Linked DNA regions of Homo sapiens: region 2 is linked to region 1. A link means that fine-mapping ties the variant in region 1 to the expression of a gene that starts in the linked region. Tissue or cell type: hypothalamus. Region 1 holds a variant in brackets; the other region holds the start of a gene. All regions are shown on one strand. Distances are between the middles of the regions.

What was found. PIP is the estimated chance that this variant, and not a neighbour inherited with it, causes the effect.
Region 2: ERI1 starts here. The variant in region 1 is fine-mapped to the expression of ERI1 in hypothalamus (GTEx, PIP 0.97).

What each region holds. Positions count from the first base shown.
Region 1 is chr8:9,094,071-9,102,255 of GRCh38, reverse strand. It overlaps a transcript of ERI1 not described here. Among named protein-coding and RNA genes, the nearest start is that of SNORD3I, 40 kb to the right of the region's middle. The variant A/G (reference allele first, on the strand shown) is at 3,320.
Region 2 is chr8:8,999,315-9,007,499 of GRCh38, reverse strand. ERI1 (exoribonuclease 1) reads right to left here and starts at 4,603. Exons shown (of 7, transcript NM_153332.4): 1 at 4,329-4,603. The coding sequence starts at 4,436. LOC105379227 (a long non-coding RNA gene) reads left to right here and starts at 4,758. Exons shown (of 3, transcript XR_002956680.2): 1 at 4,758-4,839.

The DNA.
Region 1 (8,185 bases):
CTCCTAAAGGAAAATCTGACTCTCTGTGTAGCAGCAATACACTGGGCTGGCAGCCTCTTATAGCACCTTGAAGCATATTAGAAAAAGTTACTCTATCCAGGTAGGCAGAGTCTTCAGGGCCCCCAGCTTGGTGAAGGGAGCTCAAGCTGCATCTCGTCACCTCCCCACCCCAACCCTCTCCACTCAACCCTTGGCCGGCACTTCCGTGGGGCAGAACCTACACAATCCTACACCTTAATATAGCAGCTGGCTGTCAGTCAAAGTCAGGAAGGTTTATTTTCTTGATGCCTGTTCCTTGCTTACAGGGCCTCTTTTTCATGTCCACTCAACTGTCTGGATTCTTCTGCTTTTTGTTTCATGTACTCTCCTTTCTCTCTGACGTGTCATCTCCATACAAGTAAGCATGAAGTTGGTGCAAAAGTAATTACTTTCAATGGCAAAAGCCGCAATTACTTTTGCACCAACCTAATAATAGCGTGATAACACACAGATTCACAAAACAGGTCATACTTTTATTCACCAGTCTAGGCTGTACCTTCCTGAAAGTCAGGGACATGGTTTATCTGAGCAAAACGCTTGACCCATAGTGGATATTCAGTAAATACTGTTGAATGAATGAAAAACAATCTCCCAGTGGTTCTAAATTGCCTTTGAATCATGGATTTCTTTGAAATCTGATGGAAGCCAGGGTGATATGATTTTGCTCTGTGTCCCCACCCAAATCTCATCTCGAATTGTAATCCCCATGGGGAGGGGCCTGGTGGGAGGTGATTGGATCAAGGGGGTGGTTTCCCCTAGGCTGTTCTCCTGATAGTAAGTGAGTTCTCACGAGATCTGATGGTTTAAAAGTGTGGCACTTCCCCTGCATCTTGCCGTCTGCCTCACTTCCCCTTCTCCTTTTGCCAAAAATGTAAGTTTCCTGAGGCTACCCCAGCCATGCGGAACCGTGAGTCAATTAAACCTCTTTTCTTCATAAACTACCCAGTCTCAGGTAGTTCTTTATAACAGTTTGAAAAGGAACTAATACACAGGGATATTTTCTCGCAAAATGAACATGTACAAACATACTAAATTTTGCATACAGTTTGGGAAGGATCACCAACTCCTAGCAGGAAGGGATTTAGATTTTAAGCCAGGATAAAAAGGTGTGATCCCTTTAAAAAAAAAAAAAAAAAAAGGTTGCGGGGGGGACTAGAAATGAACTAGGACCTGACCCTCACCAAGAATCTAATGTGTCACCGGGTAACGGGTCTGTCATCTTCTTTAATCCTTACAACCACCCTTTAAATAGGCATTACTATCTTCATTCTACCAACGAGAAAATGAGGTTTCAATAGCTTTTCCACTGTGAAACATCAGACCGAATATTCAATCCAAGTCTCTTTTACCTGCAAACTCATATTCTTCTGCTATGTCATTATGCCTCCAAATATTACAAATTCTCAGGATTCTACAGTCAATTCCCATTTATTGTGTTTTGATGGATGAGGCCCTTTAAAAAAACTACCATCTAAACCAAGCAAACAAATGCATCTTAAATATAGTCATATATTTTAGATTAGACAACTTTATAAAGGATTCCTATGGAGTTTTAACAAAATCTATAAAATGATTGCCAAATGTATCTTGCACATTATATTTTCCTTAGATTCTTAGACTAACAGTAAAGCAAAATGAAACCAACATCTCAGCTAATCAGAATGCCCCTCACTGGCACCTGTGACTAGGTTAATGTGCTTCTGTCCATGCTGAAAGAAAGCAAAACAGAAGATAAGAGTCTTGACTTTAGCATACATTGACTCATTCACTTACACCGTGGATAGAAACACAAACTGCAGGGTCAGAAAGACCTAGGTTTGAGTTCTATCCTTTTCGCTAGTTGTTAAGAGACCTTAGGCAAGTTACTTAACTTTGAAAAGGCTTAGCTTCCTCATTTTAAATGAGGGTATTCACGGTAACTATTTCAGAGGAATTGTTATTATTATTATTATCATTTTTTGTATTTTAAATATACAGTAGGAACATTTATTTTAACACTTCTAAAAGATATTTCTCCATGCCTGATGATTTGATATAAAAATCAAACCCATCATACTTTCCCCATCAGTCTCTCTACATTTAGGGCAATCAGAAATTTGTACAACACGAATATTTGCTTCTGAAATGAAAATTACAAATTTTATTGAAGGGGTTAATGAATAATGCACTTAAACTTCATAGTGCAATGCTTGGCTTGTAGTAAATGTGCAGTAAATGTTAGCTACAATTTTTCATCTTTACCATCTTGGTCTTCATCGATGTGGTTCTACAACGAGCTGACATGAACAGAATGATGGCCCTGAGGTTCAACAGAACTGGTAGTTTGCCACATGACTCAGCAATTCCACTCACAGTTGTCTGCCCAAAAGAAATGAAAGCATGTGTCCATAATACCAATACCGTTAGCAAAGACTGCGGCATTATTCGTAATAACCAAAAAGTAGAAACAACCCCAAAGGTCCATTGATAGGTAAAAGGATAAATAAATTGCTGTATCATACAATGGAATGCTCTACAGTGGTAAAGAGAACAAAAGCCACGTGAAAAAGAGTATATAGTGTATGCTTATTTATTTATTTGGTTGGGGTTTCTGTTTCTTTCTTTTTTTTTTTTTTTTTGAGAGAGAGAGTGTCCCGCTCTATTGCCCAGGCTGGATTGCAATGATACCGTCACAGCTCACTGCTGCCTTGACCTCCCAGGCTCAACTGATTCTTCCAACTCAGTCTCCTGAGTAGTTGGGATCACAGGCATGCACCACCACACCTGGCTAATTTTTTATTTTTTGTAGAAACAAAGTCTCACTATATTGTCCAGGCTGGTCTTGAACTCCTGGGCTCAAGCAAACCTCCTGGCTCCCTAAGTGCTGGGATTACAGGCATGAGCCACTGTGCCTGGCCCTGTATGATGATTTATACAAAATTCTGAAAAAAGTTGAACTAATCAGTAGCATTGGAGTTCAAATCTTACTTGGGGAGAAGGAAGAAGAGAGCACAAGAACTCTTTGTTGGTTGGATGGATATGCTCATCATATCCTGGTGATGGTTTTATGGGTATATACAGATGTTAAAACTTACCAAATTGTGGCCGGGTGTGGTGGCTCATGCCTGTAATCCCAGCACTTTGAGAGGCTGAGGCAGGTGGATCATTTGAGGTCAGGAGTTCGAGACCAGCCTGGCCAAAATGGTGAAACCCTGTCTCTACTAAAAATACAAAAATTAGCCGGATGTGGTGGGGGGGCGCCTATAATCCCAGCTACTCGGGAAGCTGAGGCAGGAGAATC[A/G]TTTGAGCTTGGGAGGCAGAGGTTGCAGTGAGCCGAGCTTGCACCACTGCACTCCAGTCTGAGTGACAGTGAGAGCCTGTCTGAAACAAACAAACAAACAAAAAACTTACCAAATTGTATATTTGAAATATGTGCAATTTGCTGTAAGTCAATTATACCTCAATAAGGCTGTTTAACATTTTTTTCTATTTCTTTATTAAAAATTTTTTTTTTATTTCAATAGGTTTTTGGGGAACAGGTGGTATTTGGTTACATGAATAAGGTCTTTTGTGGTGACTTCTGTGATTTTGGTGCACCCATTGCCCAAGCAGTGTACACTGTACCCAAGGTGTAGTCTTTTTATCCCTCACCTCCCTCCCAACCATTGCCTGGAGTCCCCAAAGCCCACTGTATCCTTCTTTTTGTTATTGTTGTTGAGATGGAGTCTCACTTATTCTGTCACCCAGGCTGGAGTGCAAAGGCGCCATTTCGGCTCACTGCAACCTCTGCGTCCCGGGTTCAAGCGATTCTTGCTTCGGCCTCCCAAGTAGCTGAGATTACAGCTCAAGCTACCACACCCAACTAATTTTTTGTATTTTTAGTAGAGATGGGGTTTCACCATGTTGGCCAGGCTGGTCTCAAACTCCTGACCTCAGGTGATCCACCCGCCTCAGCCTCCCAAAGTGCTGGGATTACAGGCGTGAGCCACTGCGCTCGGCCAATTATTTGTATTTTTAGTAGAGACAGGGTTTCACCATTTTTGCCAGGCTGGTCTCATACTCCTGACCTCAAGTGATCAGCCCACCCCAGCCTCCCAAAGTGCTGGAATTACAGGTGTGAGCCACTGTGCCCGGCCCACTGTATCATTCTCATGTCTTTGCATCCTCATAGCTTAGCTCCCACTTAGGAGTGAGAACATGCGATGTTTGGTTTTCCATTCCTGAGTTACTTCACTTAGAATAATGGTCTCCAATTCCACTCAGGTTGCTGCAAATGCCATTATTGCATTTCTTTTTATGACTGAGTAGTATTCCATGGTGTATATACATATACCATAATTTCTTTATCCACTATTTGATTGACGGGCATTTGGGTTGTTAAGCATTTTTTTTTAATTAACAAAAATTTAAACTTCTGCAATGGCTTTTATTGCTTTCAGAATAAAATCCACATTCTTTATGATGTATATAGTGCTTGTTTATGTCTTTTCTTCTTTCTTCTTTTCTTTCTTTTAAAAAAGTCTCTTAACTGCCTACTAAATGATAAATTACTCTTTTTTTTTTTTTTTTTTGACAGAGTGTCATTCTGTCACCTAGGCTGGAGTGCAGTGGCACAATCTTGGCTCACTACAACTTCTGCCGCCCTGGTTCAAGTGATTCTCCAGCCTCAGCCTCCTGCGTAGCTGGGACTACAGGCGCACGCCACCGTGTCTGGCTAATTTTTGTATTTTTAGTGGAGACCGGTTTTTACCATGTTGGCCAGGCTGGTCTCGAACTCAGCCTGTGATACTCAGGAGATCCACCTGCCTCAGCCTCCCAAAGTGTTGGGATTACAGGCGTGAGCCACCGCACCTGGCCCTAAATGATAAATTACTTCTGAAGAGAGGCCCTGTTTGTTTGGTTTACCACTGGGTCCCCAGTACCAAATGCAATGCCTAGCACAAAAACACTCGACTGTTAATGAGTGAATAAAAAACAGAAAATCATGAAAAGCCAAAGAGTAATACAAAAAATATAAAAAATATGTAGCATATGAAAGCGGGGAGAAAGCGCTGGGGATTGAATAGTCACAAAAGGCTTCATGGGGAGGCACACACAAAGGGTCCTGAAGGATGGAGGGGGTGTAAATGGGAAGAGAGAAGAAAGGGGGACTTCCAGAGGAAGCGGGAGAGCTAGAAGAGTAAAGGCAGAGAGGGAATGGGTTCGTTTGGGACCTGGGTAGGAAAGGTGGCTTCGTCTAGAGAGTGAAGAGCCCTGACTCCCATCATAAAGGCAATATTTAGGATCTGCAGGATGGGTGCGTGAGATTGAAGAAAAGAAGAATGTCAGGAGAAAGTCAGACAGAAAGTGGGAACAGAGGCCGGGCACAGTGACTCACGCCTGTAATCCAGCATTTTGGGAGGCTGAGGCGGGAGCATTGCTTGAGCCCAAAAGTCTGAGGCTGCAGTGAGCCATGATCATGCAATTCCAGCCTGGGTGACAGAGTGAGATCCCGTCTGAAAAGAAAAAAAAAAAAAAAAAAAAAAAAAAGATGGCAATAGAAGTAAAGAGATGGACATTTCATTTCATAGAACGGGACTTTGGATCACTTAGGCCTCTTCTCAAAGCATGCCTGAAATGTACAATCAACATCAGGCAGCTGGACCACACTTCCGAGGTCAGCCCCAAGCCACCGCTCCTCCCTCCTGATCATCCTCACAGTGAGCCCTTTCACAGTCCAGCAGTGACGTTGTCCAAGTTCTTTCATGGTGCCTCTCCTGTGACTACCTCCATGGGAAAGAAAGCATTGCTTCTGGGGTACTTGGCCCTGGTTCAAGGCTTGAGAGAAGGCCAATCCCTTGATGAAGAACCAAGGGTAGGTGTCCTCAGACACCCCTTGTTTTGAGGCCATACTCTTCCCCAGCCTCCAAGATCCTGGGAGCCGGGGCTGGATTTGTAATCCAGCACCTCTTTATAAACTCAGCAGGAAACCCTTAGAGGACCTGGCTTTGTTTTGAAAGGAGAAGAGAGGAAGCAAAGCAACTGAAAAGGCACTGTTGACTTTTCATTCAAGGCTAAAGCCAAATAGAATGTGTTTGCTCTGCACTGAATGCCATGCAATGGAGAGTTTGTACTTGAACCTCATGAATGGCCCAAAGTAAACGTCCTCTCTACCTCAGGCCCTCAGCAATACATTTAGACAGTGCTTCAGGCTTATCAAGTACTTTCACAGACATTATCTCATTTGATCCTCAGGTCAGCCTATGACGCAAGGGGGATTATTATGATTTCTATATTCCAGATGACCCAGTGCCCTGCAGCTAGGCGGCGAGGGCTCCCGAAACATTTCTTTAATGAGGCTAGTAAGGCCAAGTGCCTTGCCCCCCGACCCACCCCTACAGATGATCCTTAAACACAGAGCAAACTTCTATTATATAAACATCTGTCCTGGCCGAGCGCAGTGTAATCCTAACAGTTTGGGATTCCAAGGCAAGCAGATGTCTTGAGCCCAGGAGTTCAAGGCCAGCGTGGGCAACATGGTGAAACCCCATTTCTACAAAAAACACAAAAATTAGCTCGGCATGGTGGCATGTGCCTGTAGTCCCAGCTACTCAGGAGTCTAAGGTGGGAGGATCACCTGAAGCAGGGAGGCTTGAGCCCAGGAAGTTGAGGCTGCAGTAAACCATTATCAGGCTACTGCACTCCAGCCTGGGTTTCAGAGTGAGACCCCATCTCAAAAACAAACAAACAAACAAACAAACAAACAACAACAACAAAAGACCTGTCCCATGGATTTGGGCATCCTGTAGCCAATTTGAATTTGCAATGCTGAACTCCTTACCATTACAGAATTAGGTTTTATTAAGAGATAGCCCTCTACGGACTCCAAGTAGGGAGAGGTAGAGAGAACGGGAAGGACTGAAAAGATATCTACTGGGTACCATGTTCACTATTTGGGTGATGGGTTTAATACAAACCCAATCTATTCAACAGAACCCCAGCATCACCCAATACACCCATGTAACAAACCTGCACATGTACTCCCTGAATCTAAAATTTAAAAGTGTTTTCAAAGAGGTAGCACTCATGAAGCCCTACAGCGTGCCAGATGCTCTCATGCAGCATCTCATTTAGTCTTCACACCAGTCCTAAGAAAGCAGGTTATACAATCCTCATCTTGCAGCTGATGGAAGTAAAGCTGTTGCAACTGCCAGTAGGAAAACGGCAGGATTCATATCCCACCTTCTGGCTCCAAAGCCCATTCTCTTTCCTTTGTGCCATAATGGTTTTTAAGCTGAGAATTAATTATCTTTGGATCCTTCCTACCACCCATTTCAGGACTCTCCCAACCCCCGTAACACATATACATACTAGCTACATAAAAGGATTACGTTTTTTTAAAAAATAGGAAAAATCTCTCCAATCTTAATATTTGTCTGAGTCTTTAAATTTAGCAAAACACTTCAGGGTTTCCTGTCTTCAGACAGGCTGCCATTGTTAAGTGTTAGGGAAGGGCCCGTCCTACAGGAGATGAAATACCTTGTAATCCCCAAAGCAGTGAACTCCAGCAGGAACTCACATTGTAAAACAGACCAAATAATGAGAAACACATTTATGTTCCCCAACTAGCACACAGAGAAGAGAGAAAAGGAGATGTGGTCTTTGTTCTGAGCAGTTGGGTTGCTGGAAACTCATCATCCATCAACACACAGGACACAGAGAAGGAGAGGGAACAGAGCCAATCTCTCTACCCTGTGCGCAGAGCAAACAGGTGGGGCAGATGGTGGGGAGGGTTTTTGCCTCATCAAAGAGGTACGTGGATTGAAAAGTTTGAGACTCAGCCCTTGCAGCAATTGCAGAGAGAGGGATTGCGAGGCAAATATCAATGCTTAACTCTTGGAGAGGCTTTTGGAATGCTGCCCAAGTCTGCACTGAGAATGAGGGCATGATCCTCTGCCCCTTGAGGAGACTCTCCTGGTTGCTTGGATTTGTCCTGAGAGTCCACGACGATTCTCATGCTCATATTGTAATATGCTATTATTTTAGAAATTGGAGCTTGTCAAGAAACACCGTAGCTAATGTTTCAATTGTCCTCAATGCCTTGTCTGCTATTTGTATTTGATAATATTCTCCAGCAAAGCTTTTAAATTGCTGATAATTACTACTATACTTGTTATTATTAAAAAAT
Region 2 (8,185 bases), 95 kb after region 1:
AATAAATGGTAACTATTAATATCACAGGCTATACAACAAGCCCTTCACAAACAATATGCTAATATTTACAAATGAACCCATTTTTAAATGAACTTTTACATTATACATGTGTAATAACTTCTGATAATTTTTTAACCTGACTTCATTTCACAAAGTTAACAAAAATTGCCCAACATAAAAACAAAATGGACCGCAAATCTAATTTACAGCTTCCTAGTACTCAAAGAAGGAAATGTATTTAATTTCAAAACTTACATTTTCCAAAAGTTGTACTTAGGTCCACTAACCAGAAGAACTATAGAATTATGAATTTTTTCATAAATAAAAATCTGTTAAGAAAAAACATGACTCAATTCTATTTTCTCCACAGGCAGTCTCAAATTACTAATATGTTAAGTTCCAAAGATTCATTTGTAAGTTATTTTCCACATGCAATATCACAAATATTAGCTATGTTCCATAATTTTGAAAAATATTTAGTACTAATTATCCCTATTAAAGCTTGTTACCTTAGTTATAATGTACCACATTGTCCTCACGTAAACTGTAATTATAGATCAAGGAAGGATAATCACAGAGAGGCCACAGTCCCTAACTCAGAACTGATCCTGATGGTTCAGGAACCATTTCTTACTCTAAGCTCTCAATTTAATGCAACACACATTTACTGGAAATGTAATGCTAGGTAAGGTGCCAGAGTACTCAAGAGTGACTCACCCATTTCCTTTGAGGAAGAGGTCAGCAGTTCCAATGTGTGAACTGTCCATAAATTAAAGAACAGCCACACTGAGGTTCCTTGTTAACAATGTTAAGGAAAAAAAAAGTATTGCTAGTTGACCAATGATTCACTTTCAACAATATATTAGATTTACAATAGATATTGCTCTGCTTGACCAGAATTTTACAAAAAATTATCTTTTGACTTTAAATTTACATTGAATTTGAAACTTCATCTTTAGTCATCATTTAGTAAATTTCAGGTTAAAATTTAGGTCAACATTAAGTAACAGTTTGTCTACCAAAACAGATGTCTCAGTTAATTTAAGCAGATTTTCTCTTTGGATAAATCCTCTTTCTGATTCACTGGTTAATTCTCATCCTAAACTGTAGCTAGAAAAATTATTCACAAGTAACACTTAGGCCTCTTCTATAGATGCTATAAATTATGACTTCCATAAAGAAAAATTTGCTTCCTTTCCTAGGTCCAGCTCTAGTTCTCTTCCTTCAGTGAAGTTCTAGAGACAGCCGAGGTCCAATCCTCAGAAAGCAGTGTCTCCTCCCAAATTTCAAATCTACACTAATGGTTCACAAAGAAGGATGCTCAAATCAATCTGCCAAGGAGCAGAAAGAAAATACTAAAAACCCTACTTGTATTGTTAATCTGCAGAAAGACAAAATTAGTTTACGAAATACATACTTACATTTGCATCAGCATCCGTACCAGTAACTACATCCACCTATCACATGTCACATATAATACGGACCATATAATGAGAAAAGTGATAGATTCCACAATATGGAGAGAAACATTCACCATCACAGAACTGTAACATTTTGCAATATTCACGTATTCAATTAAGTGGATGTATGGTTTATATTATCTCAAATAAGAGAAGCTTTTACATTATGGGATGTGGCCATGAAAATCTTCTATACCAAACAGAGGTTTACTATCTTGTGGCAAACTACTTTAAAACTGTCGTTGAGGCCGGGCGCGTTGGCTCACGCCTGTAATCCCAGCACTTTGGGAGGCCGAGGCGGGCGGATAACGAGGTCAGGAGATAGAGACCACGGTGAAACCCCGTCTCTACTAAAAATACAAAAAATTAGCCGGGCGGGCGCCTGTAGTCCCAGCTACTCAGGAGGCTGAGGCAGGAGAATGGCGTGAACCCGTGAGGCGGAGCTTGCAGCGAGCCGAGACTGAGCCGCTGCACTCCAGCCTGGGCAACAGAGAGAGACTCCCTCTCAAAAAAAAAAAAAAAAAACATAAAAAAACTGTTGTTGAACTTAAAGATGAGTTACAAATTTTCTTTTACAAAAAGACAGGTATTCTATAATTGCTGTCCTCTTCTTATTGGGAAGGGTACCGGAGCTTGATTTTTAGCATTTTTTTAAAGGAACACAATCTGTTGTTGCAAGAAAAAAGAAAACACATTTTAACAGTAAGCTACAAAGTAACTGCTTGTCAAATAAAACTTTTTCTGTATAGAGAACATTTTGAAAACATGTTCTGGAAATGCTATTATTCTGCTGCCAAAAATCTAGGTACTACCTTTTAAAAAAAGAAAAGGAAAACCTCTGCATCTGCACACTGAAAAAAAACTTAGAATTTTTCTTGATTGACGTTCTTCCAAAAGGAGAGTTCTGATGAAATCTGAACCTACTTATTAAAAATATAAATATGCAATAGCTTCTACTAGTTTACAAAGACAACTAGCATTAGAGATAATGGAAATTTACCACCTGAATTCAACAAAAAACTTTGGCCCAGATTGAAAAACACTGTATCATGGCCAGGCGCAGTGGCTCATTGCCTGTAATCCCAGCACTTTGGGAGGCCGAGGTGGGCGGATCACCTGAGGTCAGGAGTTCCAGACCAGCATGGCCAACATGGTGAAACCCCATCTCTACTAAAAATACAAAAACTAGCCAAGCGTGGTGGTGGGTTCCTGTAATCCCAGCTACTAGGGAGGCTGAGGCACGAGAATCACTTGAATCCGGGAGGCGGGAGGTTGCAGTAAGCTGAGACCATGCCATTGCACTCCAGACTGGGCAACAAGAACGAAACTCCGTCTCCAAAAAAAAAAAAAAAAAAGTATCATTACTATTATTTTTTGAGACAGGGTCTCACTCTGTCACCCAGGTTGGAGTGCAGTGGCACGATCACAGCTCACTGCAGCCTCCACCCATGGGCTCAGGTGATCCTCCCCACTGAGCCTCCCCAGTAGCTGGGACTACGGGAGAGGGCAACTACGACCGGCTTTTTGTAAAAAAAAAAAAAAAAAAAAAAAAAAGTATCACTATAAAGAGCATGCAACAGTAAGTTTTTAACAATTACTACCGTCACTAAAGCCAATTTGGAACAGAGACCTAGGCCTTAAGTAGCTGTAAAAGTGTCAAGACTTTCAAATATAAAGAAGCATATTCAAACACACTTCTTTTACTAAAAATAAACTTCGAAATTTATTTTAAAACCCACTTACAGGATGAGATTGACAACGTATCTCAGGCTGAAGAGGGAGGCAGGTGGAAGAGTGGTTCTTTACAAGAGAAGGGATGTGCAAGTACTCTTTGAAATAACAACCTTAGAAGGAGAAAGATAATTGCAAGGATCCAAAGGAAGTGCACACAGGGCAAAAGGAACATACAGAGATCCTTAACGAGACCTTCTTTCCAATGTCAAAGAACACAAGGCAGCGAGGGGCACTGGGAACAAAAGGGAAAAAACTGTGTGAGATGCAATTACCAAGGGAGGCAGGCACCCGACCCCGCAGAGCAGCAAATGGAAGTGACTCAGGAGGGGAATAAGCCAAATTCATGTTATTGAAAAGCTCATTCTAGCTGCCAGATGGAAACTGACTGTGGACGGAAGGAGCAAGAGTTAGGAGGCCTCTTGCAAATACGCACTTTATGAAGCTTTACGAAGTGTTCAACATGTTTATTATTAGGAAAAGATCAATTTTAGTATTCAATCACTTACAATCCGCAGCGCTAGTCAACAATTAACATTCGTTAAATAAGTTTTAAGACTGTTCTACAACTTTGCCACTGTAACTAAGTTCAACCGATGAGATGTCAAAATGATTCATTCAATCTTATACTATGGTTATATGAGACACCAGTTAATGAGCAAAAGCAGCTAAGACGAAGCTCCACTTAACAGGTACAGAGACAGGGATGCTGGTGAGTGCTTTTTAAATTTTTTCTTTTTTTAAAAACAGGCATGAAGTGACATACCTAGCGTATATGGTGAGATTTTAAAAACATAAAGCCTTGCAAACTACCCATAACGGCTACATGGAGTGACAACAGCAACCGTGAACACAGAATTAAGTTTAAAGCAAAACTCCCTCTTAGAACCTGTTAACCCACTGTAGACAGAACTGGTCTTGACGATTTCCTCCCTCCCAGAGAGTGATTCGGCCCTGAGGGGGCTCCAAGACACCCACCCGAGGATAAAGCCAGGGAGCTGGGCACCGAGGAAGAGGCTGGGGTCCAAGGGCGCACAGCTGCACCTTCTGCGGGACACCTGAGAAGAAAGGGGTGCCGAGGGCGCTTTGGGGACGGGGCAGCTGGCGCCAACAGCCAGGCGCGGGTCGACTCCTCACCTCGGGACTGGGACGCGGCGGCTCCTCCCCGCCCTCCGGCCGCGGCGACTCCAGCAGCGCGAGAGCCACGGCCTCGCCGGCAGGCTCTTTACTCTGTGGATCCTCCATGCCGGCTGTCACGCCAGAGGAGAGTTGCTGGAGCCGGACACTTGCTAACTCTCACTCTGCAGAGCCCGAAAGCCTCGCCTTTCTCCGTTGAAAAATTACCGGGCTCGCGTTCCCGCGGCGGCGGCCACACAAACTCCAGCGGCCACCTCCCACTTCCGGGAGCGTGTGGCGTCCACACGCCGGGCAGGCGCAGTGAGCCGGCGTGCGCGGAACGCCAGCGCCGCAGTCCACAGGGGGAGGGAGGACGAACAAGAGGGAGGCGCGCCGGTGAGAAGACGGGGCGTGGCCGGCCGTAGGCGGAGCTAGCGCGGGTTGAAGTTGCGCAAGGATCTAGTCCAGTCACTGGAGGGTAGCACCGGCACGTGTGTTCCCGTCAGTGTTTCCTGAGAAGGAAAAAAGTAGGGTGAGTGGGAAGATATCATAGAGAAAGATGTTTTCGACCATAAAAAATAATAAAACAATTCACATTTTCCATAAGGAGTTTCCTAAAACTTCCACTCTGGGCAAGAAAAGAAAATGGGTCGGGACTTAGTGTCCCACTATAAACAATTAGAAAACGGAACAAAATATAGGAGACACCTATTCAGACATTGGACAACGGACAGCTGTGGACTGTTTTACCTGAGAGAAAAGAAATAAAAGGAGCCGTATATCATCCTGCCCTTTTGCCCAGAGGCGATTTCCAGTCTGTGGTGCGATGAAAGGAAATCATATGGAAACCTAGGATCTCCTGGGTTGAAAAGACAGAGATTGGAGTTGACGAAATTGGGGTAGGCCAAGTCGGTTGGAATTTGTAGGGCAGAATTCTGGAGAGGAGGGAATTACATGGAAAAAGAGCTTCAGAAATCTGCTTAGGAGTACCTTGAATCTTTAACTGAATAAAAAACGTGAAACTCCACAAGGCCAGGAAAGAACAATTACTGGGGAGCAGTACACCAAACAATGGTGAGAGGTCACACAGAACTGGGAATCATTTGAGCTCCCAGCAACCAGAGTGAAGAGATTATTGAATACCATGGAACACGCAATAGAAACCTCAGATGTGAAACTGCCATTGCAAAATTATCATTGAGACAGTGAAAGAGATCAGACCTAACCAACTCCATCTTGCTTTTAACCTCCAGGCTATCCTTATTCATTCCTAGGCGTAGGCCAAACTAACACTGGGAGGAACTTAGTGTATAGCTTATAGTTTAAAACAAAGGTGATAGCCCTTTCTCAAAATAAACCCTCTTCTTGAGACTAGACTGCTTTTGTAGGACTAGTAAATTAGCCGAAAGATTAGAAATTATGATTTAGGACTCATGCAGCTGAAGGCTACAAGATTCTAACCCTCTCCAAATTGCTCCTGGGGATAATATCACTATTGTAAAATCTAAGATCAGTGCTTGAGATATTTTGCAGGCCCTGCACTTGATGGATCAGCTGGCACCTCCCAGATTGATAAACTGACTCACCTGATCTTGGATAAACTAGCTCATCTGATTTTGTGTCCCCCACGGGAGGAACTGACTCAGTGCAAGAGGACAGCATCGACTCCCTATGATTTCATCTCCTACCCAACCAGTCACCACTCCCATCTCACTGGCTTCTCACCCACCCAATTATCCTTAAAAACTCTGATCCCCAAATGCTCAGGGAGACTGATTTGATTAATAAAACTCAGGTCTCCTGCACTGCCAGCTCTGCATGAATTGCTCTTTATTGCAATTCCCCTGTCTTGATAAATCGACTCTGTCTAGGCAGTAGGCAAGATGAACCTTTTGGGTGGTTACGAAAGTGTCATGCCTTAGTGAGATATAATAACCGTAGACTGCAGGACCCAGAACATAAACTACTGTAGATTCTTCAAAAGCCTTAAAACAAGCCCTGAAAGGATCAAACTGCTCTGTAAGTAACCTAATTACCTGTAAGAACAAATTCTAAAACTCTCTGAAAGACTACAGTAAAATCCAGGATTCAACAACATTAAATTCAAAATGTGAGACATCCAGTCAAAAATTGAAAGACACGCAGCACTTGGGGATGCTGAGGCGGGAGGATTGCTTGAGCCCAGGAGTTTGAGGCTGCAGTGACCTATGATTGCACCACCACAACCCAGCCTGGGTGACAGGGTAAGACTCTGTCTCAAAAGAGAGAGAGAGAGACCAAGTGGTAAGAAAATATCTCACGAAGTTCATAGAAACAAACCCCAAAATGATAAAAATGATGGAATTAACAGACAAGGATTTTAAACACCTGTTATGAATATGCTCAAAGATTTAAAGGAAGACATGATAGGAGAGAAACTGGAAAGATTTTTGAAAAATCAAATTTCTGGATGGAGGTGAAAAATATTTGAAATAAAAATTTCTTTGGATGGGATTGCTAGCGCATTAAGCAATGCAGAGAAAAAGGTAAATAAATTCAAAGATATAGCAACAGAAACAATACAAAATGACACACACACACACAGAAAAAAGATGAATACAGCTTCAGTAACCACTTAAAGAGGCTTAATACTTCAGGACCACTTGAAGAGGCTTAATACTATTGACCTAAAAGGTAGAAGCTGAGGCAAAATTAATATAACTAGAGAGTTTATTTGGTCCAAGTTTGAGGATTGCAACCCAGGAGCATAGAATTGAAGTTGTGCTGAATCCATCTACTCAGAAGATATGCCAGTTTGGAAGTTAAGTGAACACTTAGTAACCAATCATAATTGTCTTAAGTCTTGCCCATTCTAGATTATTTGCTTTGTTAAATAGGCAATTGAGATAGGGCATAATTCCAATAACAATAATCTTTGATGGGGTTAAGTAGCCCTTTCTAACCATACATACCTCCATCTCAGCTTCTATCTCAAGAAACAACTCTTTTGACTTTGTTTCTTTGACTTCTAGAACTAGTGCAGCAGCATCAAGAAATTAGACCTGCCATAAATAAAAAGACCCAGAAGAAGATACTCTAATAAGTAGTGAGGCTTTTGTCCATGAAGCCTATGATGAGCAGCTGTGCTGGGGAAACTCCAAGAAGTTTCTCTGAGGAAATTGGATTGTGAGACACAGTTAAAGAATGTCCCTTCTGAAAAATCCTAGCTAGGTGAAAATAGTCGAAGTCAGTCAAAAAATAGTAAAAAAAAAAAAAAAAAAAAAATACAAGCTAGATGAAAATAGCTACATGAAAATTACTATCGTGCAGTAACTTTTTTTGTCTTTAGACTCTGGTTTGAGCTATTAAAGGTTGAACAAAGTGAAACATGCATGAAATAACCGAAAAGGAAGATGAGGCAAAATTAATATAAGTAGAGTTTATCTGGGCCAAGTTTGAGGATTGCAATTGTAGATTCAAGTTGCCCTGGGTATACTCAGATCAGTAGAAGCTACAAGTGAATTTTTAAAGGAAAGAGGCAGTTGCTGGGTTGTTTATCAAGAATTTACTGTAAGGCCAGGCGTGATGGCCCACACCTGTAATCCCAGCAGTTTGCCAGGCTGAGGTGCGAGGACCACTTAAGCTCAGGACCAACCTGGCCACATGGTGAAACCTCATCTCTACAGAAGGAAGGAAGGAAGGGAAGGAGGGAGGGAGGGAAGGAAAGAAAAAGAAAGACAGGCAATCAACAAAAGAAATAAGTAAAATGCTTATAGTATGGAGAAAAGTAAAACAGGAAAAGGGAATGGGAGGGTGCCCAGGTATGGAGGGGGTTACAATTTTAAATAGAATCGTTAGGGAAGACCTCTCTAATGATGTGCCATTTGTGTAAAGACTTG